3 separate regions of the Homo sapiens genome follow, and regions 2 and 3 are each linked to region 1. The links come from fine-mapping of genetic effects on gene expression. A gene starts in region 1. Each other region holds a variant in brackets. All regions are shown on one strand. Distances are from middle to middle. Region 1 holds the start of FCN1 (ficolin 1). Region 2 overlaps LOC105376314 (a long non-coding RNA gene). Region 3 overlaps KCNT1 (potassium sodium-activated channel subfamily T member 1).

Evidence for each region. PIP is the estimated chance that this variant, and not a neighbour inherited with it, causes the effect.
Region 2: its variant is fine-mapped to the expression of FCN1 in whole blood (TOPMed, PIP above 0.99).
Region 3: its variant is fine-mapped to the expression of FCN1 in whole blood (GTEx, PIP 0.97).

Annotation. Positions count from the first base shown.
Region 1 is chr9:134,916,276-134,920,406 of GRCh38, forward strand. It overlaps FCN1 (ficolin 1), which reads right to left and starts at 1,637. Exons shown (of 9, transcript NM_002003.5): 1 at 1,494-1,637; 2 at 73-186. The coding sequence starts at 1,596.
Region 2 is chr9:134,937,475-134,941,605 of GRCh38, forward strand. LOC105376314 (a long non-coding RNA gene) reads left to right here. Exons shown (of 4, transcript NR_188683.1): 3 at 3,994-4,131. LOC124902302 (a long non-coding RNA gene) reads right to left here. Exons shown (of 2, transcript XR_007061846.1): 2 at 1-3,791. Among named protein-coding and RNA genes, the nearest start is that of FCN1, 22 kb to the left of the region's middle. The variant G/A (reference allele first, on the strand shown) is at 1,604.
Region 3 is chr9:135,786,624-135,790,754 of GRCh38, forward strand. All of the region lies in intron 29 of KCNT1 (potassium sodium-activated channel subfamily T member 1), which reads left to right. LOC107987140 (a long non-coding RNA gene) reads right to left here. Exons shown (of 3, transcript XR_007061851.1): 1 at 3,437-4,131; 2 at 2,873-3,048; 3 at 1,306-2,740. Among named protein-coding and RNA genes, the nearest start is that of KCNT1, 87 kb to the left of the region's middle. The variant G/T (reference allele first, on the strand shown) is at 2,213.

The DNA of each region.
Region 1 (4,131 bases):
GCATCCAGTTTCATAAAGAGCAAGAGCCAGTGCCCCTGCCATGCCTGGCCTCCCCACCCGGCCCGCACCTACCTCTCTCTCCAATGACACCTGCCTCTCCCTTTGGCCCTGGGGCCCCGGGCAGCCCCGGGCAGCCTCGGAGAATGGTGAGCTTGTCAGAGCCCTCCAGGCCCACCACCTTCACCTCTGCAGAGAAACACAGGTGCCCACTCAGTGCCTGGCCCAACAGTGGCTGGGAAGTGAGGTTTTCTGCTCTGCTGGGGCCTTGGTCTGTCCTCACCCCTCAGGCACTGGTGAGGCGGAGATGTGATGGGGGGCAGAGCTCTGGCTTTGGAGGCCACCCCGACCTAGGGGAGCCCCATCTCCTCAGTGCTGTGTGTCCTGCAGCAAGTAACTTAACTCCTCTGAGCTTTGTGCCCTGGGCTGCCAAGCGGGGATAATAACAAGGTTGCGGCCAGGATTTGGTTAAAGAATGTGCATTTTAAATCTCTTATTGTAATTTATGGCATTTAGAAAGAGCTTAATAAACAGCGGGCACTTTCAATAACTAATGACAATCAATATTTCTAAGAAACTTGGGGAATTGGGGCTGACAAAGCATTTTCCCTCCCAGACCTTGGGAATGTGGTTGTAGAATTACTGGGCTGGAAGGGGCTTTCTAGGTCCTCTGGAGAGGGGCAGTGTGGGGTCCAAGGACACAGAGCCAGGTGTGGCACAGCTGCAGCCAAACCAAAGTTGTTTACTTCTTTGAAAAAATATTTTTCATTTTGTTCATTACAAAATCTACACGCCCTGCTAAGGGCGCTCTTAGAGACCATGGAACGGAGCAGTGCTCTCACCGGAGACATGGCACTGCCATTTTTGGGGTATTTCCTTTCTGTGTTTCCAGTCCTCCTTCCACTAGAGCAGGCTGTAATTTACTATTTATGTTTCCTTCATAAATATGTTATCAGCCAGGGGCACCAGGCCGTCCTTAGGAGCAGTCTCTTGCTGAGCGTCACAGAACCACCTGCTCCTGAATCAGTGAGGGAAACACCTTACCACCGTTCAAACCCTTGTCCCTATCAACTGATTCCGACTCTCTTGGAGGAGAGCCAGAAATCTGCCTTTTTAACAAACCCCCCAAGTCCGTGTGGCAGCCACCGTATTAGAGGGTCTTAGAGTGCCTCCCTGGTAAGCCCGTAAGAAGATAAAGTCAACAGTATTTTCTTCCTTCTCAGTGACAGATTCCAGACCCACCTATGAAGCTCCAATGGGCAAATCCTGGGCTTTCGAGGCAGACAGACCTGGTGACATCCCTCCCCTATCCCTCCATGACCCTGGGCAATGCCTCAGCTGCCCTGAGCCTCCATGTCCTTGCCTGAGGATAAAACAGATCTGTTGGGCATCTTCACAGGAAGATGTGCATAAAAGGTTTTGCCTGGGACACCCGAGTGTCAGTGAGTGGGGTTGTTACCAGCTTTTAGGGACCAGAAAACCCAGGTCTGTCTCACCTGGACATGTGTCCGCAGCCTGGGCAGGCAGGTTCTTGATATGCAGGAACAAGACTAGCAGGACAGCGAGCCCCCGGGCCATGGTGGCTCCACTCAGCTCCATGCTCTCTGGCCTTTGACTCTGAAGAGTCCCCCAGCTCTAACAGGGCAGAGGAAACCAGCTCTCGCCTTGTGCCACAGTTTCTCAACTCCCTGGGGGACACCCACTTCCTATGGGCTGCTTAGTTGCACCAACAGGAGGTATGAGGTCATCTCAAAGGATGTTTCCTTCCACTAGGCTCCAGCAAGATGCCCACCCCATTGGGCTCTCTTCCCCCAGCAAAGACACCCTGCTCCCAGTCCAGAGAGCTCCTGAGACTCCTCTGCTGGAAAGCATCGGCTTTGCTTGTGGCTTAAGGAGAACACAGCCCCCACACCCCCTTTCCATTCCCCAGCTGTCCCCAAGCAATACTCGGAAACCTTGACCTTAACCTTGGGGGATAAGGAAGGTTTTGCTGAAGACGCTTCCTTGCCTCATCTGTTCCCAGAAAATTCAGGGTTTGTCCGTCATCAGGCACTTATCATGGATGGAGAGGAAAAAAATGTTGAGCACTTGTTATGTCCCAAATACTATTTCCATCATATCATCTTGCACCAGCCCCATTCGGTGGAGTAAATTATTTGAAAGTTACAGCTGGAGAAATTGAAGTCACTCCACTAGTAAGAGCCAGGCATTGGACTCAATTCTGTCTAACGCCTTGTAGATCACTGGGATTGCTCATTTCACCTGAAGGTGGGGATGCCTCTTGTTCCCCCAAATCCCTGAGGCCATGTTCCTACTCCGCATCTCGTGCTGTGAATCATGCTTAGCCAGGCCACGCTGTGGACACTTTGTGCGGGATTTTTAGAACGTATAGAAATAGTCACTAACGAGAGTCAGATGGTAGCAGGACTAAGGAGCAGGGAGAGGTGTTGTTTTGTGGTTTGCAACTTCTCTGAGCCAGCGTGTGTAGACTGGGTTTCCAAACTCAAGGGCTCCCCAGGTGGGAGAGAAGTGGAGGGGCGGCCCAGGGGTGGGGGATCCAGGAGACACAGGACCTTGTGTCCAGGCTCTCTGGGCACCACAACGACTCTCGACTGTGTGTGTTTGTGTGTGTTGGCTCCAGCCTGTTGAGAGACAACGGCAGGAGGCTTCATTGCCTCAGACACCGCTTAGTGTCCCTGAGCTACTGGCCCAGGCGGGAGAGGTCTGGGTGTCAGTGGTGCGGCCTCCTTTCTTGGAGAGGATCCAATTCAGGAGCAGCACTCACCTGGGATTGGGTCAGAACAGGGAGAAAGCCAGCAGGTCTGTGCCCCTCAATTCCATTTGCCAGCTGCCCCCTGGGTGTGAGGGGACCTCCTCTTCCTTGCAACATCAATAGGTTTATTTCAGGTGAGAAGTCAACACCACCTTCAGATATCAAGTCAATGTTCCCAAGAGTATGAAAGAATGCAAGATTCTGGCAAGTTAAAATATCTTAACATTGGATCAACAAAAGTCATTTGATTCCTGGCAATGGCAGTTTAGGTATTTGGGGGCATCCTATTAAGGACAAACAGACAAAACCTTTAAAAAGAGATTTGCTCGAAGGCACCGTCAAGCTAGCTATGTAGTAAAGGATTACTTTGCCAAGCTCTCAGGAGCCACAGAAATCTTAGAGAAGTGAAACTAGTAGTGGGGACCTCTTTTTGCACAGGGATTTGCCAATCTCCAAAAGAGAGGTGAGAAGTTGGGCAGTGATTTCACCATCTTGCAGAGCTGAAGGTCAAAGACTGGGGCCTACGGCCTGCCAAAGGTATGGGTTTGGGGTTGGCTTTCAGAAGGGCTGCACCCTAGCAATAGGATGAGTGAGCAACAACCAACATTCACAAGGGCTGCAAACTGGTTTTGAGACATCTAAGTGTCCCAGGAAAGGAATCTCAACTCCTGGAATTATTGCTCATGCCCCCAGGCTCCTTGCTGAAAGAAACAAAAATCTTCTCTGAAGGAGAATGACATCATCCCAGGTCATTATTTCTGCAAAGTGTTTTATTTTTTTCAAATGAAATGTTAAAACACAATCAACGATAACCAGGCTCATGGGAATAAAAGACAATGTGTATAAGGACCAACAGAAACAACAGAATATAGAAAGAGGTCTTTGGAAGCTGTGGATACAGAAGTTACAACATAATTAACAGGAAAAATGGAAAACCATCCTCAGAGACTGAGAACAAATAAGGATGCTTGTCATCACCACTGTGGTCAACATTGTATTGCATGTCACTGTCCAGTGCAGTAGGCAAGAGAACAAAACCATAAAAAGATTGGAAAGGCAGACACAAAGTTGTTATTTTCAGAAGACATGATTGAGGATGTAGAAAATTCTAGAGTTTCTACAGATAAACTAGCAGAATAAAAAGTTTAGCAAAAATCAATTGTGCTTCTAAAAACTAGCCTCAAAGAATTTAAAAATGAAATTTAAAAAATTTGCATCAGCAACACCAAATTCAAATAACTGTGAATAAGTCTAACAACATCCATGCTGGTCTTCTGTGTACAAAACTATCAAATAGGAACAGAAAGACCTAAAAGAAGATTAAAATAATTAGAAGGATATTCTATATGTGTGGATTAGAA
Region 2 (4,131 bases), 21 kb after region 1:
CAGTAAGAGCCACCTGGGATGGGGCAGGTCACCGGACCACCTTTCTTCACCTGTGTCCCATCTGCGGTGGGGAGGGGGGACTTCATTCTGCATTTTACATTTGAGGTAACTGAGGCAACCTGGAGGAGGTCACAGAGCTAACCATTAGTGGGAGAGCATCAGGCACATGAGGACCTGCAGCTTTGCAGGAGGAAGATCCTGATGCCCCCAAGCATCCTCACAGGCGCTCTCGGCTGGAGGTTCATCTTTCAAATCAGCCCTGCCTCCTCCAGTCAGCTCTGTCTGGTTTAGCTCAGCTAACAGGATGCGTCAGCTTACCTGAATAAAACACTTTACACCCCCACGTAAGGACCAATAAGCTTAACCTTTAGGGACAGGTTTGGTTTTTGTTTTGCCTCTTCCTGTCACAGGCTTCAGCTGCCACATGGATGAGGAAGTCAGGGAGGTAACTGACCAGACCAGCACACCTTCTCCCTGCCCCTGGCTGGCTAGCTGGGACCTTTCCCCCTCTGCCTCTCCAAACCTGAGGCTGAAAGGGGCCTATGGGGGTGTTCGGGAATCTGGGAGGTTGCCAAGCCCCATCCACCAAGGTGGGCCGGTTCTGTCCCTAAGTTGGAGCTCAGGACTGGCTTCAGCCAAGGCAGTGCCCAGAGCCTTTGAGAGACCCCAGGCTGGGGTCGGTGGGGTGGGCCTGGCTCTCTGGGGAAGGCTGCCATCAGGGAGCGTGGGCTGCCGCACACTCTCCTCCCGGTGTTGACAGTGACGGATGTGGTCAGGGCAGGACCCAGACAGGGAAGAGCTGAGGTTCCTGGTGGGTCAGTTTGGCTCTTCCCTGCTCTGCTCTGTGGCTGCAAATACAAACCTGGGGCCCAGCAGGGACAGGCATCCCCACCTGTCAAAGGCCTACGGACCCAGGGAGGGGGACGCCGTTCCTCACGGCCCTGGTGTCAGAAGCATGACCGGCCTGCTTTGTCAAGAGGCGGAGGAGGGCGGGATGCCTGCTGGGCATGTGGACTCTCAGCTTCCAAGCAGGTCCTGTTGCCCTCCTGCCCTCCAGGTGACAAAGCTGAGGCACTGTTGGGAGTAGCAGTCTGCCCGTCATCCCTGGCAGTGGGTCAACATGCAGCCTGGCTCTGGGACCTGGAATTGGACCTGGGTTATGCAGCTGGCCTGTGCAGGTGCCAGCCTCGCCTCTCTGGGCCTCCATCTCCTGAGCCACACAATGAGGACGAGGCCGGCTCTGCACTGAGAGCAAGGCCGACGGCAGAGGCCATGTGCCGCAGACCTGGACTCATCCCCTCACTATGCAGGCAGGCCCCAGCCCCTAGAAGCTCCTGGAACTTGGAACTCTGGGCAGAAGCCCTCAGAACAGAGCAGCCCAGTTCTGCCTCTTCCAGCTTCCCCAGGAGCCTGCTGCCTCGTCTGCAGTGGCAGGGAAGACCATGACGCCCCCCACACCCACATCCAGGCTGCCTTGCAATCCACACACCTGTCCATTTCACCTCCATCCACGTCCCTCTCCCCTGCGGCCACCACGCAGGCCCAGCCACCCCCACCCCTCTGCTGCTGCAGCCTGGAAGGTCGCTGCATGCTTCTCTATCCC[G/A]GGCAGTCCCGCACCGCTTGGGGAAGCTGGAAGAGTCCAGGTCTGCTGGCACCAGCCGTGAGATGGAGCATAAGGGGCATGTGGCACCCCTGAGCACAGACCCTCCTGGGCTGTCCTGTTACAGAGAGGGGCAGATCACCCTCCTCACAGCCTCCAGGCCCTCTGGGTCCAGCCGCGTTCCCTGCCCGACTCATTGTGTGAGTGCCAGGCACGTCCCCCTCCTGGGCACTCACCCTGCCACCCCCAGGCCTCCTAGGGCCAGAGTCTCTGCCCTGGACACGTGTATTTTCCTACTAACTGCCACTCATCCTTCTGTCTTGTCTGCCCCGGACAGTCATGCCTCTGCCATCTCCCCCTGGCAGGGCACGCTGCACCTTCTGAATCCCACCGTGGCCCTGGGAAAATTTCACTTGTCTCTCGGCACACCAAGGCCAGGCATTCAGGGATTGCATCACTTTCCTGAGCTATGTACCTGCAGCATCTGGCTCGGGGCTGGGTGTGTCACTGACCCACAACCACTGCTGAATGAATGATGAGTGGATGAGTGAGTGATGAGCGGATGAGTGAGTGATGAGCGGATAAGTGAATGAGCACAGGTGGGTCTCAGGAGGTCCTTCCAGCCCTAGAACTGACTCGGGGGCCTTGGTTAATGCCAGTGGGTGATTTTCTGACTCTAAAGGCAGATGTGGGGAGTGGAGACTCAGCCCTGAATGCATGCAGTGACCCAGCACTGAGAGAGGACGGTGGCTCTGGCGGGGTGGCCGCCTGCGAGATGCTCCCCGGGGCCTGCTGCGGAGATGAGTAAACATCAGAGTTTTGTGATGAGGGCTCTGCCAGGGGAAGCCCACGGTATCACGGAGAGAAGACAAGGGCATCCACCACAGGAGGATGGACAGGGTGGGCAGGTGTGGGCTTCGTCATCCATCATGGCCAGGGCTGGGAGTCCTCAGCGCTTCCAGCTCTGGAGACAGGCCCAGAACCCTGGAAAGAGGAGCTCCCATCAGCCCACAGGGGGCTGGGCCGGCCATCCAAGGCAGACATCCAGGGTCCTTCTATTTGAACCGATGGGTAGATGCTCAGCTGCTCCGGGGGCTGGTCCAGGCTCCATCCCAGTCCTGGCTGTCCATGCAGAACATGGTACCCAGGCCCCAGGACTAGCAGATAATCCTTCAAGAGGGTCCAGAAACGGTGTGCCGAGCACAGTTCTCCATGAGTCAGAGGCCTCTGGACATGAGCCTAAGGGGCCCACATTGAAATAGGACTCTCTAATCACAGCTGGGCACCAATCAGGCACCGGCTTCCATGGCTGAGGCCTGCTGGCTTCTCTCTCTCAGTGAACCGTGCTCCCGTCAGCCTCCGCGCGACATCCCGCAAGGCTGCAGCCACCTCTCGCTCTGCATCCAGGAGCAGGAGTGTCCGGGGTGGAGGCTCTGCTGCCCCATAGGCTGTGGGGCTGTCTGTGCCAGGAGGAAGGACCCCTACCCGCACCTGCTGTGTGCCTGCTCAGGGGTCGAGGCAGCTGCGCAGCTTACAAAGAGGACAGCACCCCCGTCTCAGGCTGCCAGGGCCTTCTGTGATCTCCTGTCCTTGGGCTCCTCTGCTGGCACCCTCCTGCTCCTCCTGAGCCGTCCTCGTGCCCTTGCCATCTTTCCTGGAAAGCCTTGCATCCATTCAGCACAGCTTCACAGCTTCACCCAGCCCGGGCCTCATGTGCCCCAGAAACACAGCCTTGAACACAACAGCGGGTTCCCTCTCAGGAGCTTCCCCACCTCCCCCTGGGTCAAGGAGAGGGAGACCAGCATTGGCGTGCACTGTGTCAGGTGGAGATCAATTGGAAGAAAAGCAAAGTGGGGTGGTGGTGGGCAGGGGACCGCAGGGGGTGCTATCTCAGAGGTTTCTGCAGGGCCGTCTGTGCAGAAGCCCATTGCTGTCGCTTGTAGCTCATCGTCCTTGTGGCAGCCCCATGCCAGTTCTGCAGGCCAAAGAACAAGGTTCAGAGAGGGTGAGCAGCTGGCAAGAGAGCACACAGCAGCTAGTGGCAGGAGCGGAGCCCAGTCTTCCCTCCAACCGAGCCCTTTCCTTCTCCTTAGCTTTGCCCACCGAAGCCCTTCCCATCTCCTTGCCTAGAGATGGTTAGGCGTGACGACTGTGTTCAGGATGACCCTGGCCAGGTGCAATAATTACAAGCCTAGGAAAAATGACAGAAAATAAACATTCCAAGATATTAGCAAGCTGGCGTGGCTTTCTCTTCTGCTTTACATTATTTTTTCCTTACTTTCCAAATTTTATGCGGTGAGAATTTATTACTTTCATTACCAGGTGCAAAAAATAGAAACAAACAAAAAACTCTGTCTGATCTTTCAGACTAGTTCGAATGTCTTCTTTTCTAGAACTGGGATGACCAGGACATTTGGGCGTGAAAGGGGCCCTACAAGCCTTAACAGATACTAAAGAACGTCAGACAAGCAGAATGAGGATGGCCCCAGGCAAGGTGGACCCCACCCCAGCTGCAGGGAACAGCAAGGCTG
Region 3 (4,131 bases), 870 kb after region 1:
CTCCTGTCTGTCATCTGTCTGTCTGTCAGCCTTTCTGGCCACCCTCTGCCTGCCTCTACTGTGGGGCCAGCTGTGGGCACCACCACGGCCCAGCAGAGGCCCCGTGCAGAGGAGGGAAGTGGCCATGGCCCACCCTGGTGCTGGGAGGCCACAGGACCCTTGGGCATCCCTGGTGTGAGCCCCGTAGGGAGGTGCTCGCTTCCACTGCTCTGGGGCCTCAGTTTCCCTCTCTGCCAAATTAGAGACAGGAGCTGGCTGAGCCCTTTGGCCAGGGGAGGCAGCTGTGGGGTGGAGAGGGCCAGGCTGGGCTCCCCAAGTCGAGGGCATCAGCTAGAGTTGGGCCAGCCAGCTGCAGCCAGGCCTGCTGGACAGCGGATACCCAGGGTCCCTGAGTTCTCGCAGAGAACAAGACTGGTGGGGACCCCCTCCCAGAGCCCCCAGCCCTCCCAGCAGCCAGGGTAGGGGGGAGACTTTGGGGGAACAGTTGGGGGAAAGGCCCATGCCAGGACATGCCTCTGTCCACCATGGGCCTGTTGCCACTCCCACGGCACAGCCCCCTCCTGCCGCTTCAGGGAGCCCGGCGTCCGTCTTCAGCAACAGATCCGTGCAGCCCCCTCTCTCTGCGCCTTGTGGTGGGAAGTGTGCTTGGGCTTCGGGGCCCTACATGCCCTGCCTGGCGTGGAGAGAAGCTCATCCCCTCCCTCACTCTAGAGATGCTACCTCCGTTGATGAAGCCATGGGCCCCAGCTCCCCAGCACCGGGCCGCTACCCAGTGACACCCACCCCTGAGCCGGGTCGAGGCTCCACCTTCCCTTTGTTCCATCTCAGGGACTTGCCTGATGCTCAGGGCTGCCTCTGTCCCGTCGGAGTGCCCCGTCTCCCAACCCTGCTTCCTGCGTCTGTCACCTGGGTCGGGGTCTTGAGTCCCCTGAGCAGAGTCAGGAGCTCACGGCTGGCCCAGGAGCTGCTCACGGGTGACTGGGCTGGGCTGGCCTGCGGGCCCGAAGGAGACTCAGAGGCCAGGGTTTGGGGAACAGGTGGCCTGTGAAGACCTTTCCCGGCCCCCAGCCCTGTGGGCGCTGGGGAAGGTGTCCCCCTGTCCCCGCCTTGAAGCTTCCCTCCATCCCCACAGTGTCCCTGTCCCGGGAGGGACTTCACGCCCTTTCAGGTGGGGCTCACGAGGCTGAGGGGGGTGCCCAGCATTCATGTTTGTGGTCCCCTGTGACTGCTGGCAGAGGATGATCCCGCCCGGTCTGGCCACCCCCAGAGCTGGTGCCTGCCTCTGCGACCGCTGCCTGCCCCCAGAGCTTGGCAAGGAAGGAGCAACTGCCTTTCTGGTGACCGACTCGCTTCTGGTGGCCGGCCTCCCGTGCAGCTGCCCCTGCACCCGCCCACTGTGCCGGCCGCCCGCACCTCGCTTGCTGATATTCTCTCTCTCTCTCTTTCTGTCTGTGCCTCTTTCTGTGTGTTCTGTAGAGGACGTAGCAAATTTAACAGCCAGTGATGTCATGAATCGGGTAAACCTGGGATATTTGCAAGGTAATTCTGCCCTGGCGGGTGCCGACCACCGCACAACGGGGCTCGCCAACCCTTCACCGCCGGCAGCCTTGCTGCGCCATCCCGGCCAGGCAGGTGGACAGGAGCTGTGAGAGCACGTCCCAGGTGTCAGCCCAGGCGGCCCTGTTGGGCAAGGCCTCGCATGCCGACAGAGTGTCCCCTGGCTGGGCGTTGAGGACGGGCCTGAGGCTGAGGTCTGGGGCTTGTGCTAGTCAAGGTGCTGTTGGCCGCCAGGCAGAGTGGCGACTGCCCAGCTCTCGGGCTCACCCTGGTGCTGCTTCTCCTGCTTTGCTGTTTACGATGAGCTCTGATGTGACCGGTGGGCCACCCTGGCCTACAGCCAGCCCTTCCCTGTGGCCGGCCCCACAAGCAGTCTGAGGACCCTAAGCTCCTCTGCTCTCAGGAAGCACCCAGAGGGTCCCGAGCCAGGGCCCCGGGAGGAGCTCGGTGAAGCCTGGGCTGGATGCAGGGGTGGGGACTCCAAGCCACGAGGAGTAGGCAGGCTTTATGGCTGCCCAGGCCAGGTGGATGGTGACCTTCGTCCCCCAGCTGGGGCTCCACGAGGGGATTCTTCCTGCTCGGCTCGAGCAGAGCCGCTCCACACCCCGTTTCCTCCAAGAACATGCTGTGCCCCGTCAGTGCTCAGCAGAGTCCG[G/T]GCCAGGGTGCTCCCAGGGGTCCTGGCAGCCTCAGGGGAGCTCAGAGCCTGCCCCCGCTGCCACACCTCCCTACAGGGTAACCCAGGAGCTTGAAGGGCCTCCTGAGCCAGGACGGGTGTTAGCTCGGGAGGGACCTGTTTGCCACAATGCCCTTGCACCCGGAGGCAGGGCCAGGCCTGGGGCAGCCACAGAAGTAAAGCGTCGGCCTCTCCCGGCTCTGTGCTTTTCCCCACGATGGCGCTCATGGAAGACCCTCGCTCTGCCGGGCACTGTGGTGCTCGGACCTGCAGCTAGCGGCCTTCATGAGTGGGATGCCTGCGTCGCCCGCTCCCCTCACCCGCCAAAGCTTCCTGCGGCTCCCACTGCAGCTCCAGGGCAGGCATGGCCACAGCGGGCTTGGGGGGCGAGGGCTCACAGGACTCCCGCGGCAGGCATTTCCTGGGCTCGGCCTACATGCCCGGGAGGGTGACGGTGCCGGGGTTCTGGGGCTGGGGAGCTGCACCCCCATGTTTAGATTCAAGCGGAGCCTAGGCCAAGAGGCAGAACAGGAAGAGTCACACCCTTTGCGGGGAGGGCGGGCAGCATCCTGGGGCCCCTCCAGCGTGCAGCCCCCATCCCACACACACAGCGGGAGGAGGCACCCCAGCCCCGATACTCACACAAATCCCCTCTTCACGCCTTCCTCACAGCTGCCGTGGGGGGAGGCACTAGTTATCCCCAGTTTATAGAGAAGGAAACTGAGGCTCGGGTGGCGGTAGCTCTGGCCTGGCGTGGGGGATTCAGGCGGGAGTGACCGTGGATGCCAAGAGCCAGGAGGTCTGGAAGCCTCTGGGGCCTGCAGGGTTAGGAAGCGGGTTGGGGGGCGAGCAGAGCTACCACTGAGGCCTGGAGTAAAGGTCGGAGGGTCTGGGTGGAGGAGTCAGGTAGCCCTGGGGACCAGGGGCGAGGTGGCCCTGCCCCAGGACATGCACCAGAAGAGCCAAAGCCAGCCCCTGCCCCACCCCAGGCCCTCAGGCACACCTGCTGCCAGCCTTCACCAAGCACCGTGGACACGCGAAGCTAGTCCTCTGCGACCATCCTGGGCAGCCAGGACCAGTGCCATGTGACTGACCACAACCCAGGCCCTGGCACTGCAGCTGGGGCCTGGCATCCCCACCCGCCCCCTAGCCCAGCCCCAAGAAACACAAAGCCCAGCCTGGCTCAGCCCAGTGAGCTCTGCTTACTTCAGAAGCGTGTGGTCCGGGCACCCCAGCGGGAGAAGCTGGGGCCTGGGGGCCAGTCTGTGCCTGCCGGAGTGAAATGAGCTGGTGGCCCCTTGTTCTCGGTGTCCCACTGGGTGCTCGTCACAAAGCCAGTCAGGCAGGGGGGCAGGGTCCCAAGAACCTACTAGAGCTGCCCTCACCACCCACTCCCTGTGCCACCTGCCATGCGGCCACCCCAGAAGCGTGTGTGGGCACGAGGGTGGGGAGGGTGTGTCTCCCTGCACAGCCTCAGCATGAGGCCCCTGGGCCTCCTCCAAAGGCCTGGGGAAGACCCCACCATGGGTTTTGGGAAAAGAGCAAAACAGCTGTGAGGGGCAGGTGTCAGGCCGTCCCATCCCGCAGGTGTGGACACAGGAGCTGGCACCAAATGACCTGCCGCCGTGTGCGAAAGGCCTGAAGCAGAGCTGGTCTCCTGGCCGGAGCTGCCCTGGTCGCCCCCAAGTCCTAGCCTGTGCCCCCGCCACCCTGGCAGCAGCTGTGCTCACACTGTGGGAACTCCAAAGCCCCCACTGCAGAGGGACCAGCATGGCCCCCACCTGGCTGGCCAGCAGCCTCCCCGACTTTTCCCTTCTCAGGGACCAGGGCAGGGCTACCCCAAGGGGAGAGGACGGGCAGAGAGGAGGGAATGGCAGCAGCCAGGGTGGAGGCTCCCTGGG